Linked DNA regions of Homo sapiens. The protein of the gene in region 3 interacts with the protein of the main gene of each other region in a biochemical or structural test. Each region holds a gene or a part of one and is shown on either strand. Other genes may lie near its edges.

Region 1 (3,883 bases), on a different chromosome or scaffold from region 3:
AGGCTGGAGTGCAGTGGTGCGATCTTGGCTCACTGCAAACTCCACCTCCTAGGTTCAAGCAATTCTCCTGCCTCAGCCTCCTGAGTAGCTGGGATTATAGGGGAGCGCCATGATGCCCAGCTAATTTTTGTATTTTTAGTAGAGACAGAGTCTCACTATGTTGACCAGGCTAGTCTTGAACTCCTGACCTCAAGTGATCTACCCACCTTGGCCTCCCAAAGTGAAGGGATTACAGGCATGACCACTGCGCCCAGACTGCTTTACTTTTTTCCATAATATATATATATATTTTAAATAGAGGCAGCAGGGGTGGGAGAAGGGGCGGCACGGGTCTCACTATGTTACCCAGGCTGCTTTCTAACTCTTGGGCTCAAGCAGTCTGCCCACCTTGGCCTCCCAAAGTGCTAGGATTTACAGACATGAGCCACTGTGCCTGGCCATTTTTTATTTTATTTACTTTTTTATTTTTCAGAGCAGGAGTGGAAGTTTATTATTAAAAAGTTATAGGGCAGGGAAAAAAGGAAAGTGCACTTGGAAGAGATCCAAGTGGGCAACTTGAAGAACAAGTGCCAAATAGCACTTCTGTCATGCTGGATGTCAGGGCTCTTTGTCCACTTTGTATAGCCGCTGGCTTATAGAAGGTGCTCGATAAATCTCTTGAATTTAAAAATCAATTAGGATGCCTCTATAGTGAAAAAGATACAGTAAAGATGAGGGATAATCAATTTAAAAAATGAGTAAGTACACACAAAGCACTTTATCCATTCTTATGACACCTGTTACTTTTTTGCTGTGTTTGTGTGTATGCATGCCATGTTATAGTTTGTGGGACCCTCAAAGCAAGCTGGGGAGAGTATATACTGAATTTAGCTTCTGAGACATGATGCTCTTCCTTTTTAATTAACCCAGAACTTAGCAGCTTATCTATTTCTCTAATCTCAAAACATCCTTAAACTGGGGGTGATACTTGAGTGAGAGAATTTTGCAGGTATTAAATGAACTATCTTCTTTTTTTTTTTTCTTTGAGACAGAGTCTTGCTCTGTCACCCAGGCTGGAGTGCAGTGGCGTGATCTCAGCTCACTGCAACCTCCGCCTCCCGGGTTCAAGTGATTCTCCTGCCTCAGCCTCCTGAGTAGCTGGGATTACAGGTGCGTGCCACCGTGCCCAGCTAATTTTTGTGTTTTTAGTAGAGACGGGGTTTCACCATGTTGGCCATGCTGGTCTTGAACTCCTGACCTCGTGATCTGCCCACCTCGGCCTCCCAAAGTGCTGGAATTATAGGCGTGAGCCACCGCGCCCAGCAAAGAACTTCTAACCTTCATAACCTGACAGGTGTTCTCGAGGCCAGGGTCTCTCTTTCTGTCCTTTCACGATGCTCTGCATCCCTTGGATGTGCCAGTTTCTGGGGGAAGAGTAGTCCTTTGTTACATGCATGAGTCAGTGAACAGGGAATGGGTGAATGACATTTGTGGGTAGGTTATTTCTAGAAGTTAGGTGGGCAGCTTGGAAGGCAGAGGCACTTCTACAGACTATTCCTTGGGGCCACACGTAGGTTCTTGAATCCCGAATGGAAAGGGGAGATTGATAACTGGTGTGTTTATGTTCTTACAAGTCTTCTGCCTTTTAAAATCCAGTCCCAGGACATCAAAGCTCTGCAGAAAGAACTCGAGCAATTTGCCAAGCTCCTGAAGCAGAAGAGGATCACCCTGGGATATACACAGGCCGATGTGGGGCTCACCCTGGGGGTTCTATTTGGTGGGTTCCCCTCTGCAGATTCTGACCGCATCTCCCCTCTAAGGAGTATCCCTGAACCTAGTGGGGAGGGGCAGGGGCAGACTACCCTCACCCATGAAGAGGAGTAGGGAGAGGGAGAAGATGCTTTGAGCTCCCTCTGGGAAGAGGTGGTAAGCTTGGATCTCAGGGTCACAAGGGCCCTGCGTGCTCCCTCACTTTGCTTCTCTTTTGACTGGCCTCCCCCAGGGAAGGTATTCAGCCAAACGACCATCTGCCGCTTTGAGGCTCTGCAGCTTAGCTTCAAGAACATGTGTAAGCTGCGGCCCTTGCTGCAGAAGTGGGTGGAGGAAGCTGACAACAATGAAAATCTTCAGGAGGTAAGGGTGGGAGGGGGATACCCGGGGACCTTCCCTTTCTTGGCCTAATTTCCATTGCTTCCATCACTGGCTCGTAGCTCTCCGTCTTTGGTGCAGTGGTTCTCAGTGGGATGGAGTGAAATTCCTCAGTTCTGCTGGGATAAGGTCCAGAGCCAACCCTTCCAGGATCCTGCCTTTTCACACCACCACCTGGCTCTGCTGACACATCTAGTCACAGACCCCTGTGATGCTGTTACTCAGCAAGTCCAAAGCTTGCCCTTGTCACCCCCTTCCCACCTGCACAGATATGCAAAGCAGAAACCCTCGTGCAGGCCCGAAAGAGAAAGCGAACCAGTATCGAGAACCGAGTGAGAGGCAACCTGGAGAATTTGTTCCTGCAGTGCCCGAAACCCACACTGCAGCAGATCAGCCACATCGCCCAGCAGCTTGGGCTCGAGAAGGATGTGAGTGCCATGTCTCTCTGCGGGCTCCATCTCTTTCCCCTGTCACCACCTCGCTTTCCCTAGCTCTGGCTCCTCCAACTGCTCTAGGGCTGTTGGCTTTGGACAGAATGTCCAAGCAGTCAGGCCTGTCTCAGCTCATTCTCTAATGTCCTCCTCTAACTGCTCTAGGGCTGTTGGCTTTGGATAGAATGTCCAAGCAGAGTCAGGCCCGTCTCAGCTCATTGTCTAATGTCATTCTCCTTTCTGTCATTCACTTGCAGGTGGTCCGAGTGTGGTTCTGTAACCGGCGCCAGAAGGGCAAGCGATCAAGCAGCGACTATGCACAACGAGAGGATTTTGAGGCTGCTGGGTCTCCTTTCTCAGGGGGACCAGTGTCCTTTCCTCTGGCCCCAGGGCCCCATTTTGGTACCCCAGGCTATGGGAGCCCTCACTTCACTGCACTGTACTCCTCGGTCCCTTTCCCTGAGGGGGAAGCCTTTCCCCCTGTCTCCGTCACCACTCTGGGCTCTCCCATGCATTCAAACTGAGGTGCCTGCCCTTCTAGGAATGGGGGACAGGGGGAGGGGAGGAGCTAGGGAAAGAAAACCTGGAGTTTGTGCCAGGGTTTTTGGGATTAAGTTCTTCATTCACTAAGGAAGGAATTGGGAACACAAAGGGTGGGGGCAGGGGAGTTTGGGGCAACTGGTTGGAGGGAAGGTGAAGTTCAATGATGCTCTTGATTTTAATCCCACATCATGTATCACTTTTTTCTTAAATAAAGAAGCCTGGGACACAGTAGATAGACACACTTATCTTGGTTTGTCCTTCAGTTACTGAGGTAGGGATGGGAATATCCAATGCTCATACCCAAGTGACCCTGAAACTAAGGTGCCATTTACACTCCTTAAGGTCACACAACATCAGAGGGAGAGCTGGGATTGCAGCCAAGTTTATTTGTACAGGGCCCTGTGATAGGCTAGTTCCCAAAAGCCTGTGATGCAAGAACTTTTGCCCATAGACTCAGTCACCATGTAGCTGTTACCTGTTCAGAGCTGGCTTTTTGCTTTCCCACCCTACTCTGGAATTCTTAAATGGCTTTATACTTAGAAATCATCTTATTTCTGTTGAACCTAGATCACCCCAACCAGAAACTTCTATTAATACTTTGTGCTTTCTTGATACCAGGGTCTATTTGGTTTCCACTTAAGGTTTTTGCATACTCTGCCCATAAGTGACTCATTAGTTACTCAAGTTTTATTCCTGGCTCTGCCACTAGTTCATTAGGGGTCTTTGCCCCAGAGTCATTTCTTCCATTTTAAAAACTTGGGCTCATTAAATCTAGGTAGGAA
Region 2 (7,037 bases), on a different chromosome or scaffold from region 3:
ATAAGATTAAAGATTCTTAGTGAGATCATCTTGCCAATTTGTTGTACATCTCTCATTCATTGTTGGGGGAAAAAAAAGCACAACTATACCTCTTTAATGTTATTTTCTTCCATTATCCCTCATTTATTTGGAAAGATAAGGGAAACCTTGTCTGTATTATCCAGAAGCACAGATATTTGCTTGACACAATATTTAAATTCAGCCCAATCTTTAACATTAAAAAATTTTCTTTTTAACTTGCTGGAAAAGTTGGATACATTGGCAAATATAGGGAATTCATGTCTTTTTTTTTTTTTTTTTTCTGGTCTTGCTCTGTTGCCTAGGCTAGAGTGCAACGGCATGATCTCGGCTCACTGCAACCTCTGCCTCCCGGGTTCAAGCAATTCTCCTGCTTCAGCCTCCCAAGTAGCTGGGATTACAGGCGCCCACCACCGCACCCGGCTAATTTTTGTATTTTTAGTAGGGACGGGATTTCTCCGTGTTGGCCAGGCTTTTTGAACTCCTGACCTTAGGTGATCTGCCTGCCTTGGCCTCCCAAAGTGCTGGGATTACAGGTATGAGCCACTGTGCCCATCCTCATGTCAATTTTTAAAGTGATAAATCCTGATATTATACATTGCAATTAGTGTAGAATAAACGCTTGGCTTATAGAACTCTCTGTTCTTAGTCTAAAGCTGTTCCCAAACCAGGTCATCCTCACGAAACATTCTTGACCAAGAAAAAAGATAAGGTCATTGAGATAGGAAGACAGAGGAAAAGCCTCTTGCTGTTGTTTCTTCCCAAGAAAGGAGAAGCCCTGCCAGGGAGAAGTCAGTAGTATTGCTGACTCACTGTATCACTGAGTGTAGGGTGTGGTAGCAAGGAGGAGGCAGGGGATTCACGCTGACAGGTGGCTCTGGCCTGGCTCTTGGGGGGCCTTCTGAAGACCAGTCTGCAGTTTGAGGAAGGGCCCCAACAATTCATTTGGAGAGCTTGGCCAAATACTTTCTCATTAAATCAGCACCTAAACTTGATGAACTTAAAGTTTGTTTATTAGAGTTGAAAACATTAAAAGATGACTGATACTAATGGGAGAAAAATACTAAAGACCCAAAATTTAAAATTTTCCAAAATGGACAAGAATTGATGGGTTAATTTGCTCATAACTGATATGAGTTTGCTTTTATGTGTGTGTGGAAAGCATTTAATGTGTGATGCTGTTCATAGTCCTGGCTATTTGATGTCATTTTCAGTTTTACAACATTTTGAGGATGACACTTTATAAAATGGTAAATCTTTCTCAGCGTTTACAAACTTGGCTTTTGAGAAGGGAAAAATCCTCTTTGCTATTTCTGTAAGAAGAATAACTGAGATCAGCTATTATATAGGTTTGCATGGATGGTGTCCACAATACAAATGTAAACTTGGACAGGAATAGGATAAATAAATTGCTTTCATCATAAAGGCCAATCATCCATTTCTTAGTCCAAGGAGATTAAATATAAATAGGACACCCCTGAGATTTCCAGTAAGGTATTTGAAAGGATTCCACTGGGAGGGCAGGGAATATATTTTTTCTCAGAGCATCCAGTTTGTACCCAGTTTTCTATATGGTTTGTGAACTGTAGCTTTTAAAAAAAAATTTTGTAGTTTTCTTCTAACCTTATTCATTAAGTAGTTCCTTGTTTTGGCCCTTCTACTCTTGGCCTTAGCTAAAAGCAGTAAATGTGAGTGAATTTTATGTTGATTATGTCACCTGGATCTCCTTTCCTTCCCTTCTTTTTCTCATTGAATGGTGGTACCTTAATTTGGGTAACAGCTAGCTTCTGGCACCTTCATAAAATACCTCAGAATAGCTTAGCATTGTTGCAAAACTGGTTTTAAACTAAAAACCAAATAAATAAGTGAAAAAATTTTATAAATAGTGGAAATAATTCTAGCTGTAGCATTTAGTTGAACTAATGTTTATTATGATCGATAAACAAGATTGATGCTGTATGTATTTGGGATCCTGTTTATAGGTTACAATTTATAGGGTTAGGGAGGGTTGGGTGGGGGAAGAGGAGATGTTGATTATGTTAGAAGGAAAACATTGCTCGTGTGTGTGTTTGTTTTTTCTTATATCTGTCTTGCCAAAGGAAACTTGATTTTCCCTGTGATTGGCTTTGGCCTCTGTGGTCTGGTCTGCAGCAGTGTGTGGTGGCATGCAGGTAACATATGGGGTGTCCAGTAGGTTCAGGGACCCTGAGGGTGCATTTACATCCCTTCCTATGGTTGCCCATGCCCCCCAGACCCTGCCAACCTCTCCTAATGATTCATTACCTCTGTACATAGCAAAAGCATAGGCAAAGGATGAATGCGTGAATGCCTGGATGTGCAGTTGAGAAACAGAGGCAGACATAGACATGCACCAATTAATTTGGAGCCAAGAGGTGAGTGATTGATGTATCTTAAATCTAGGAAAGTTAAAGTGAAACAGGTTCTTTGTGTTGCCCTCTGTCAAGTTACTGAATGTTGTGCTAATAACACAACACTTTAAAACCTTACTTACTTTTCTCATACCAAGGCTAGTTCTTTCTAGACCAAAAACACAAACAGGATAAAAAGCAAACCAAGAAGTTGAAAGCTAACCTGCCCACCTCACCCCTGTGATACAAAGTGTGAACCTTAAGGATTAGTTGGTGGGATTGAGGAGAGAATTATTCTTGGTGGGAACATGAATGAGAAATGATGCTGGCTTAGGAAAAATCACAAGCCCTTTCTGCCCATACTCTGGGACAAACTTTCTTGGCTCCCTGAGTTCGGATATAGACTGTATCTCTAGAAAGGCTATTTTTTTAAATAAATGATCCCACAGAACTTAAGTGGGATTTGGTTTAGATACCAAAGACACTGCTAATGTCATTGCTTATCCTTAAGTTTTCAAAACAGGCAGAGGGAATAGGAGCAAAAAGCCAAAATTTGGAAAAGCTTTACTTTATCTCTTTCCTTCCCTTTTCCCCTTTTCCCAGTCCCCTGCTTTTTGAAGGAAGTCTTCTTGGTTATCCTGGCTTTGGAAAAGAGATTTATTTTGTTTTGCTCTGCTGGCTCTTTAAAGATGGATAGTTGCTCAATCTAGCAGTGATGTTCTTGGAATTGCTGAGAAATTTGGGGAGGGCAAAAGATAGGGGTAGAATTTTTTCATTATTTCCCTTTATCTAATACTTTTAAATAGAACCAACACAGCCTATATGAGTTCAGACAATATTTAGATGTGGTATCTCCATCTGTCTCCTGTAAAAGATAAGAATTTTCAAGAACAGGATTACGTGGAAAACCAAAAGATCTTCCCTTACTCTCCTATAAATGTTTTGTTCCAAATGTTTTTATATATGGGCTCTAGGGAGTCAGGTAGTTCATTGTTTCGGTGTACTATTGATAGGACACAGAAAGGGAGAGAGGGTAAAGAAATGTATCACTCTCTGAATATTGCATCAAAAATGATTAGGTTGCAGAACTTCATGAAAGCTTTACTAATAATCTTATTGTTCTGACATTATGTAAAGGTGGTATTAATATTGTATGACTTGTCAAAGTGCTAGATAGGTTTATAAGTAGGTAATAGGGATGTTGAAGATTAGAGCACTTGAAACAGAAGTTCTGGGAAAACAAGGTGTGTGTAATGGAACACCACTTTGAGCACAGAAACAAAGGTCCCTTGGACCTGGTAGGGAAGATGTGATTTATGATTGTTTCTGTGTCCCTGTATCTGCCCACCCTGCACAGGGCTCCACCACCCAGGGCCACCTTCTGGTTTAAACCCAGGACACTGTCAAAAAGTTAAGACCCCAAAACTAATTTACTGTAAAAAACATTGAGGACTGCTGCAAAGTTTTCCCTTGTTTTCTTTGTGTACTTGTTCATCATTGTATAAGTTAGCCACAGCTTCACAAGAGCAGCTTAAGGCTTCTTTCATAAATTGGCAGTGGCATTGAGTTCTCAAACATTATATCCCAAAGTCTGCAGGCAGACAGCTGGATACAGCGCTGTGTATAAATGAGACGTCCAAACACTTGAGTTTCTTAAGATTGGGATCTCTTTCAAATGAAAAAGGACAGAGCCAAGTAGAGAAAAGACTTTGTGCTCCCACCCAGCCTTAATGAGTCTCATGGTCTAAAAGTATAGGAAGAAATGAAATGCACTTTCAGAAGCTAAAATGACAGTGTCTGCTACAAAAGGCTGTAGTTGTAGGCAGTCGGGGATGCCATGTCCTTGGTTCCATTCCTGCGTGAGTCTGCAGAAGGCACACACTTTGTAAGAGTAGAGTGGACTAGTGCCAGCCTGAATAGGTTTAAAACTGCAAACAGTTGGAGAACATGGAACAGGTTGGTGCAGGAAGCCTAAGATTTTGCAATCATATTATAACATTGGCTTTTGACAACATAAATGTTGTATCTTCCCTAAGGTCAGGTCGGGGAAAGAAAGACTTCCAGCTTCTTACCTCTGCGTGCATGGGCACGTGTGCATTGCTCAGTCCGCAGGAGGTCTCACTCCGCAGGAAACGCTCTCCTCCCGCATAAGTCTGTACTTCCATCCCCTCATCTGTGGTAGTAGTGAAGGCTAGGTGAGTAAGCGTGGGCTGTTCTACCCACCAGAAGTCCAGGAGCTGTTGTATACCTCATTTCTAACTCGTGACCGAGTGACTTGCTTTAACTTTCTCGAAATCCTACAGAGTTGCCAAGTCTGCCCTCCCTCCTCAGTCATGTTAAACTCTGGCCTATAGCATCATGGGACCTGTAGCCTAGGGTGGGACCCCCTAAAGCCTCTGAATGTCGCTGCTTAAAAGCTACTGCAAACTGAGGGCAAATTGCAATCTTCTATTCCTTTTTGTTGCAAGGGGTCTTCACAGGTCTCTTAACATCTGCTTTCCCTGCCACCCTGCCTTTAGGGGCTGGCCAGCTATCCACACCCCTAACCCACCCTGTGTTTCTGACAGCTGGCCACACGTCAACTTCTGTACTTGCCTTTTCCTTGGTGGGGTAGAGGCCAACCCCTTCTCCTCTGAGGCCTCAGGGTTCTGTTTCTTTTCAGGACTTTGGGTAGAAGGGAAGACACCAAAGGCTCCTTTAAGCTGACTGCTGCATACACATTTCACTTTTTTTCCTTTGACATGACCAAAAATATCCAAATATTTAAGTTTATTATTATTATTATTATTATTTGACAATCTTATATCCAATGGGCTCTCTAGAAGCTGCATCCCCAGCCCTTTCACCTTTTCTTTGAATGTAGTTCCCAACCTTCAATTCCCACCCCTAATGCTGACAAAAAGCTTAGCCAGGTCATGATACTGCTGCTATAAGCCAGGGGAGGGTGGTTTCTTTGTTTTGTTTTGTTTTGTTTTGTTTTTCAAATTTCCAGCCAAAACCAAAGATTTCTTAATGATTGTATAAACTCAAAACAAACAAAAGAACCAAAGAAAAGGGAAGTCTTCAGCATCAGTCCAGTCTGTGGTGTCCTGGCACTTAGAAGAGTGAGGCCAGGGAAGGTGGGGCGGGGGGACCCTCTGACTGGATCAGAAAGGGCAGGCAAGCTGCTTACCACCTTCCAGGGTCCAGCACAGGTGCATGCCCCTAGCTTTGGCCCTCACAAACTTGTGAGCATGCCCTGAAACAAATTGGCATTTCAGATTTTCCAAAACAAAAGTCAAAAAACCCCATCACCACCATCATCCACCCTACACCAACCAGGGTCACTATGGGGACTTAGCACAGGGCCTAGGGAGGGTGGGAGCTGCTGCTGGACTGGCCCGAGGACTCCACAGAGTGGGGGACGTTGAAGACACTGGCGCACGATTGGCTGCTCTGCTGGGTGCTTTAACCTCTGGGGCTGGGCGAATGCACGCCACGGTGCCCTTCTGAGCCTTTTTTTCTTTTCCTGTACTGGAACTGCTTGGAAGTGGCTGTCCTGTTTGTGAGAAAACATGCAGAAAGATTATCAAGCTTTTCATTTCTCTTTATTGTAGTTTTCTTTCCTTTTTGCAGCACCACTGTGCAACTATGCATTGTACTTCACAACCTTTTGTGCTAGGTAGATGCCTGTGACTTTTTAACTTGGGGGGTGGGGGGATTGCAAATGAAGGAACTTTTTACATGGATCTTTTTAATCTCAGTTGGTTGGGGGAGGGGGGTACTTGGTTCTTGGGTCACACAAGCTCTATCCCAAAGCAAAATCCAAATGTTAATAATATTAGCCTGATGCAGATACCAAAGATAATTTCTTTCCTGCAGAACCTTAGACTCGTGTATTAAGTACGATTACCCAGCACTTGCATTAGTCTAACCTCAGTAATTCCAAAGCTTAGATGTATATTTTGGTATATTTCTGGGATATTAAAAAAAAAATGTCGTTTAACTTCTTGTTTGTTTCAGTGTAATGCTCTTAAAGTCATAGCATGAAAATAATTGAACTGTCCTATTCTTAGTAGTTTGAAATAATAGTATTTTTGTATGTTTTGGGTGTGTCTATGTATGTATTAACATAACAGTTTTCACTGCCTAGGTGTTCATAATAAAAAAGAAAATGAAAAAAGTTCTGAGTGTACATAATATTCAATAATAATCTCCCACCAGGTGTCAATTTAGATTGCATATTCCTCATTACTGTTCCCAACTGGGATTTTGTTTTCTTTTAAAGAGACAGTGATCGTGTTTTTCTAAAGATGTTTTCTTTCTCTCTTTCAATATCTTAACTCACTTTTTTTTTCTTCCTTTTTTGTCTTAATTATTAATTCAGGGGTGTTTGTCCACTGTTGTCAAAGGAGGGGCACAAGGGGAATTGGCCCCCGGCCTCCTAGAACTTTTTGTTTTATGTACTTTAAAATGTGAGTTTGAGTTCTTCTTTGTGGAAACTTAAGATGTGGTGTAAATGATTCTTTCCAAAATTGTCCAGCAGCTTGAATGAGGCAGTGACAATTCTGAGGTGGTTTATTGGGAGTCCTTCTACATTTCTCTTAGATAACTCTGCACTCTGGGTGGCTATTGTGTAGCCTTACTGCCCCAGAGTGCCTGTTAGCCAAA
Region 3 (7,037 bases):
AAAAGATGTGGCCACACAAACACTAAACTCAACAGTAGCATATTACCCGTGGGAAGTGAGATACAGAACACAATGAAGTAGAACTTTGAGTTATTTTTCTATATAATTCTATATTTTATAAGCTTTAAAGAAAAAATATTCTTTTCACAGTTAAAATTAGAAATGGAAAATGTTACGTAGGAAAATAAACTGCAATAAAAAATTTTAATACTATTTAAATTATTATGACAAGGCAGATTATAAAAAGTGGAGATGTACAACTGATTTTGGAAACAATATATTATGTCTAATATACAATATAACGTTTAGAAATATTAATGTTCTATATTACCTTGCTGACTAAACTATTGATTGAGTCTAATCTCCAAGACCTTGAGATATATTAATGTTATTTGTGGCTCTGTAATTTTGACTATTTTGGATAGATGCTTACTTATAAATATCTTTAGTTAGTATAGTTGTAAAGTTTGCCTGTTTTCACCTTCCATGGATGGGTTTAATTTCCTCTAACCACAAAGAATAGTGAAAATGCACCACTCTGAAACTTCCTAAGTCCAGAGTGGTTTATCTGGGGTTTAGTTGATCTTGCTAATGACACTATGATCTTTGGAATTTTTCCCTGTTATTTTTTAGTGACACTATTAAGATAGAAATATAGGCCAGGAGTGGTGGCTCATGCCTATAATCCCAGAACCTTGGGAGGTCAAGGCAGGAGGATCGCTTGAGCCCAGGAGTTCGAGACCAGCCTGAGCAACATGGGGAGTCCCAGTCTCTACAAAAAAATAAAAAAATTAGCAGAGCGTGACAGTGTGTGCTTGTTATCCCAGCTACTGAGGAGCCTGATGTAGGACGATTGCCTGAATCTGGGAGGGCAAGGCTGCAGAGAGCTGTGACAACTTCACTGCATTCTCAAAAAAAAAAAAAAAAAAAAAAAAATATATATATATATATATAAAATAGGTATATATATACATATGTGTGTATATATATGTCTGTGTGTGTATGTATATATTTAAAGATCAATGTTAGTATTTTACTAATAACCTTAAAAATTCTTATTTTTCTTATTACTTTTCTTATTTAGCTTATTCTGTAAGTTAAATACACACTTGGAAGAAATCAACTCTTCCCTATTCATTAGAATTTCTCTTTTTCCCTTTGTCTTGTATTCATTTTTTTGTTTTGTGAAGTTTACTTAGTGAGTACTTAGCGTTAGGCACTGCGGATAGAGAACAAGATAGGCAACATTCTGTCTTTATGAAATATACTGTACTTCCTTGTCTAGGAGACAGAACACAGAAATAAATAAGATGATGTCAGATATTGCCAACAAAAGGAGTGATTAGGACTGTGTGGTCCTAACACATATGGAATTGGGCAAGATTACACCTGGAGGACTACAAATGTTTAAATATTTATCAAAACATTCGAATATTTAAAAGTTATAAATCAAGCCACATCCTTGGCCCAGCCTGATTTCCTACACAGCATGTTGAGTTGCCAGCAGCCTATACCCTCAAGACTCAGAGGCTAAAGGAACTGCTCTCTCCTCCCATCCATCTTTGTAACCTGCCTGACTGAGTGGTAGTATGGATCTGTTGGGGTAGGGCAGGGATGATTGGGGTGGTACCTAGACCCATCTAAAACAGTATATTAACAGATCCCACCAAGTCCCCAGGAATCTGGTTATAGAGAGGTTTGCCTCTCCAGTTCATTGTTTTTTCAACTCAAGTCTTCTAGGAAGTTGTAAGCCCTTCTTAATGTTGCACTACCAGAAAAGGGGATGCAGGTATCTGGGAAACCTGGCTTGCCTGGGAATTCGGTTTGCTTTATTTGGGGCAACGAACTTTAACCGAATAAAGCTTTTATAAGCAGCCACTCTTTCTGGGATTTCTCATGGCAGAAGTTGTGTTCATTTTCTCCCTCACACATACTGGAGCGCTCAAAGTTCTTTATCCTCTGGCCAGTGAGGCCTCATTCAGCTAGCACCTCTTTCTTGTAATTGTCATTTGCTCAGTTGATTACTGAACTTTCAAAAGACATTCTTACAAGGAAAGGAAGAAAAAAACATCTGTTTTAGTGCTTGGGGTATATAGGGCTCTCTAAAGAGCAGGCCCCTGGCAGAGGCTTCTCTTGCCCAGGTCTATGGATGATATTGGGACTGGGGATGGAGGTGACCATACAGTAGCCTTTTACATGCTCTTTGACTTCTCCCTATCCTGCTCTTCTTCCTAGTCTCTCACTCAATTTGTTTTAATTTATAAATTTGTTTGATCTGTAAAACTAAACTGGTATCACTTGGGATACCTATATCTGAAAAGTAAGCTCCAAATGAAAAAGAACATTTTCCAGAAAGTTTTTTGGTAAGATTTTAAATAGAAGTGACTAGTTTTCAAGTCTCACTCTCCTTATCCCATAGGGGCAAACTATTCAGATGTGTTGTAGATTTGAACATTGGCTTAAATGTTATGTTTTATTTCTGTCCTTACAGCTGTGAAAGTTGTGTAGATTTACTGTTTGTGAGAGGAGCTGGAAACTGCCCTGAGTGTGGTACTCCACTCAGAAAGAGCAACTTCAGGGTACAACTCTTTGAAGATCCCACTGTTGACAAGGAGGTTGAGATCAGGAAAAAAGTGCTAAAGATGTAAGTATTCCTGCTCGAATGATTCAGTCAACAAAGAGGACTTTAACAATTATGTCAGTAATTGATTATTATTTGCTCATAAATGTGGACAGATTAGCAAGTAAATAACTATAAATTCATTTAAGTTCTTAGAGAACTGAGTAATATTATTTATCTTTGTTAAAGAAGAGCCTCTTGATTGATGGCTTCATTATTCATTTGTATTTATTCTTTGATTAATAAACATGTATTGAGTACCTACTATGTATTGAGTACCTACTATGTGTAAACACTACTATGTGTAAACATGTTATGCATGTTAAGCAGTAGTTATGAAGTGATGAGTAAAACAGCTATGAACTCTGTCCTCATGAGACTTACCATACAGTAGCATAGGATAGCAAAAAGACAAAAAAACAAGTAAACCAAAACAAATGTTATTTATTATAGATTGAGAATAGTGCTATATAGTTAGTGACTCAGTGTTGCTGTGGTCAATGATGTCAGGTGTGGGCAGAGGAGGTAACATTAAGTTGAAGTTTGAAGGCTATTAGAGAAAATTACGTGTTAGCTATAGTTTATTTTGGTATGTGTATTTTTGTGTATATAGATATACACACATGGGCATAGTAAATATATGTGTGTATATATGTATATATATACCTATATATTATTAATCTGTCTTTTTCATTTACAATTTAGGCTTTACTCTTTACTCTTTGTTAATAGTTTTGGGTTTCCTTTTATCTGTTATTATGAGAAATAATTGATATGTTTATTTTTATTTTTGGTGGTATACATTTCAACCCAGGTAACCAGTGTTTTAGCAGCATCTTTCTAGGTACATAACCAATAATACTTTATCAATCCGCCTAGCGGCTCTTTTATTGTTTGTATAACTTCTGCAAGGTAGTCTCTTAGATTTTGATCTTTCATTGGTAATTCCTTGCAATTTACTGATTCTTTACAGGTACATTACAATATATACAGATTTTCTTGATCCAGTATTTTTTAGACTATGTCATGAAAAATGGAGGAGTCGCTTCAATTTTTTGTGTTTTGGAAATTAGTGAATCCCTTAGAAGTAAATAATACCATAATTTCCAATGTTATGTCTTGCTTAAGCTCATTTCCCAATCTTTCAAGCTCCCAATTTATCTTTCCCTGAAGTCTTAACAAGGATTTTGCATATTGTACCATTTTCTCCTGATCCTACTTCTTCTCCGTAGTCATAAGAATTTAAGAATTGCATTTTTGGTCTGGTTACAAACCTGGTGTCAAGAAAAACAGTGTTTTAGGCTGGGCGCGGTGGCTCATGCTTGTAATCCCAGCACTTTGGGAGGCCGAGGTGGTGGATCACTTGAGATCAGAGTTTGAGACCAGCCTGGCCAACATGGTGAAGTCCCATCTCTACTAAATACAAAAAACATTAAGTGGATATGGTGGTGTGCGCCTGTAATAATCCCAGCTATTCGGGGGGCTGAGGCAGCAGAATTGCTTGAACCAGAGAGATGGAGGTAGCAGTGAGCCAAGATTGTGCCACTGCACTCCAGCCTGGACAACAGAGCAAGACTCCATCTCAAAAAATAAAAATAAAAAAATAGAGAACGATGTTTTACACAGTAAGCAATTCTTTTCCATGTATCATATATGAATTAGGTCAGAACAAGCAAACCAGTTAGATAATATTAAAAGCAATGATATGTAATATGTAGATTTCTTTTTTCTTTTCTTAAAGATACAATAAAAGGGAAGAAGATTTTCCTAGTCTAAGAGAATACAATGATTTCTTGGAAGAAGTGGAAGAAATTGGTACGTTTTTAATTTGATGTATGCTAGCCTATAAGACCATGTGCTTTTATCTTTTAAATGCTTAGGAGAACATCTCACATAAAAACCTCTTAACAGGTTTTGTTGTGATAGCTAACATTTACCTAATTACTTTCTTTTGCACTTGAGTCATGTTTGTCAAATTGAAGGCATACTTAAGTAAAGAACCTATTTAATATTGTCTTTTAGGAAAAATATGTTTAATAGAGATAGTAACACTTCATAGCTGGGGAGGAAGACTATATGGGTACATGCATCTGTGTGTTGATAACATATTAGAGTAGTTTAAATGAATGGAAAACATATTCTGATTTTTCAAAAATGGGGTTCCTATTAACCATATTTATAGTGACTAAAGCCATATGTTTATCATTATTTGTGCTTCTGTGGATATAGTAGTCTTAAAGTACTTTGAAGCAGTTGACTGTTGAAGTGGCATTCTATTAATCAGTATTATTCTGGAATCAGAGGTTGGAGTAATCTTTGTGCCTTTTCTTTCTGATGTGTTTAGTCAAAAGGAAGATTTTATCAAGAAAAAATGATTTCAGTTTTCTTAAATAAAATTTCAGAGATGTTAAAAACTTTGGAAGTTGTTATATGTTGATTTAAAAAATAATGCTGCTTTTTAAACTTGCAGTAATTATTACTAAGTGCGGGTTTGGAAATGACACAAAGGTTATATACTGTGAACATTAGAATGAGACTATGAGGATCAAACAGCAATCATTTTTATTCTTTCAAACTTAATAGGTAACTGTACTCAATATTTACTATTAAAAATAAGATTATAATAAAATGGATCATTCTTTAGAAGATTTATATATGATAAACTTAACAATTCAGATTCCTGAGGAATAATAAATATTCTAATTCCTTTAATTTCTTTACTAGAAAATCCAGAAAATCTTTTTGTTTCAACTGTTACCTGAAACTTTTCTCATATGTCTAAGTTCATTTGTTATGCCATAGCAAAAGCATGTGGAAAACATAATTTAGGGTTTCTCTGGGATCTTTCAGTGCCATAAGAGCCACTGCTTTTCCATTCTGCATGTACTCATTGCACTTTGTATGTTATCTTAGCAATCATGAGTGACTATGGATTTTAGCTGAAAAGATGGTAGAATTGGGAGTGACAAGGCAAAGTGGAAAAGTTAGAATGTAGACTGAGAAGAAAAACCAGAAAGAAATCTACAAGAACTGGGCAAGTATGAAGGTATGTAGAAATCTGGCTCTATATAGATACTAAGTATAGGACAAGCTGTTGGATAGCAATTGGGAAGAAAAGTAGCTTACATATATTCTAAAGGTAATGTGATTAGTCAAAAGTCTGGTCAAGCAATAAAGGGAAAGGAAATTATAGGTGTTGCAGTACAAGTTGAATACATGGTCACAATTACAAGCAGGCAGTCAGGATAACTAAAAGAAACATATACAGAGAAGGTGAGGAATAGGTTTAGGGGATGAACTACAAGGAGATCTTGATTCTGGGATTAAGATTCTGACTGAGCTATGATTAAAAAAATATATATATATATATACACACACACACTGCATATATATGTGTGTGTGTGTGTGTTGCTCCAAGATAAAGTAATTTGAAGGTGTGGACAACATGGGGCCCATAATTGGTACTAGAATTGATAGGCAAGAGCAAGTCTGGATATTGGGGGTATACAACATGTAATGCTTTCTTTACCAAAATATAGAAGCTGTGGCTCAGACCATTTAATTTGAAAGTGATTCTGCTATTATGTGTATTCATGAAGGACTGTCTTCAGTTGCAGTATCGGGAAACTCTCTTAAGCAACCTCCACTTAATTGTCTCATTGAAGTAACTGTCATTCCCCAGTTCTTCCATAAAAGGTACTCACTGATACCCACAGCATAATGAATGCATTGTGAATGCCATCAACCTTCTTATGCCAGTTGTACTTGTTATTGTAGTTATGTAGTTATGTAATTAAATACATATTTAATATTATATGTAATTTAAATATTTAAAGTGTGTAAGGTTGGGGAAAAAATTGTAAAACTCTAGAAGGATTCTGTTTCTCAGGTTTTTAAGTCACTTCTTAAAAAATGGAAATTGGCCAGGTGCAGTGACTCGCGCCTGTAATCACAGCACTTTGGGAGGCCAAGGCAAGAGGATTGCTTGAGCCCAGGAGTTTGAGATCAGCCTGGACAACATAATGAGATCTATACCAAAATTTTAAAAAGTAGCTGGGTGTAGTGGCACACGTTTGTAGTCCCAGCTACTTGGGAGGCTGAGGTGGATCTCTGAAGTCTAGGAGTCCAAGGCTACAGTGAACCATGGTTGCGCCACTGCACTCCAACCTAGGCAACAGAGCATGCCCATGTCTCAAAAAACCAGAAAACAGAAAAGGAAACTGAACAATATAGATGACAGTTATGGCCTATATAAGGAAGAAGCAAAACTCTAAAATCTAGAATTTGCTCTATGTCATTAAGTTAGAGAATGACTATATACTTCCTATATATGTTTTAAGTTAAAGTATTTGAAGAGAGAGACAGGTGTATGTGTGTGTTTCTCTCCTTTAACAAACTTATTTAAATGTTCAACTAT

Evidence for each region. Proteins that work in one complex are often made in the same cells at the same time.
Region 1: the proteins of MNAT1 (region 3) and POU5F1 form a complex in vitro, tested with the Homo sapiens proteins (one study listed by BioGRID).
Region 2: the proteins of MNAT1 (region 3) and POU2F1 form a complex in vitro, tested with the Homo sapiens proteins (one study listed by BioGRID).

What each region holds. Positions count from the first base shown.
Region 1 is NC_000006.12:31,163,800-31,167,682, reverse strand, and holds the end of POU5F1 (POU domain, class 5, transcription factor 1), read left to right. Parts: intron 1-512; exon of another isoform or gene 513-1,635; coding exon 1,636-1,756; exon of another isoform or gene 1,757-1,981; coding exon 1,982-2,112; intron 2,113-2,396; coding exon 2,397-2,555; intron 2,556-2,815; coding exon 2,816-3,082; 3' UTR 3,083-3,346; downstream 3,347-3,883. UniProt on the Homo sapiens protein: Transcription factor that binds to the octamer motif (5'-ATTTGCAT-3'). Forms a trimeric complex with SOX2 or SOX15 on DNA and controls the expression of a number of genes involved in embryonic development such as YES1, FGF4, UTF1 and ZFP206.
Region 2 is NC_000001.11:167,419,886-167,426,922, forward strand, and holds part of POU2F1 (POU domain, class 2, transcription factor 1), read left to right. Parts: 3' UTR 1-7,037. UniProt on the Homo sapiens protein: Transcription factor that binds to the octamer motif (5'-ATTTGCAT-3') and activates the promoters of the genes for some small nuclear RNAs (snRNA) and of genes such as those for histone H2B and immunoglobulins.
Region 3 is NC_000014.9:60,793,726-60,800,762, forward strand, and holds part of MNAT1 (CDK-activating kinase assembly factor MAT1), read left to right. Parts: intron 1-2,491; coding exon 2,492-2,644; intron 2,645-4,361; coding exon 4,362-4,435; intron 4,436-5,533; exon of another isoform or gene 5,534-5,666; intron 5,667-5,686; exon of another isoform or gene 5,687-6,316; intron 6,317-7,037.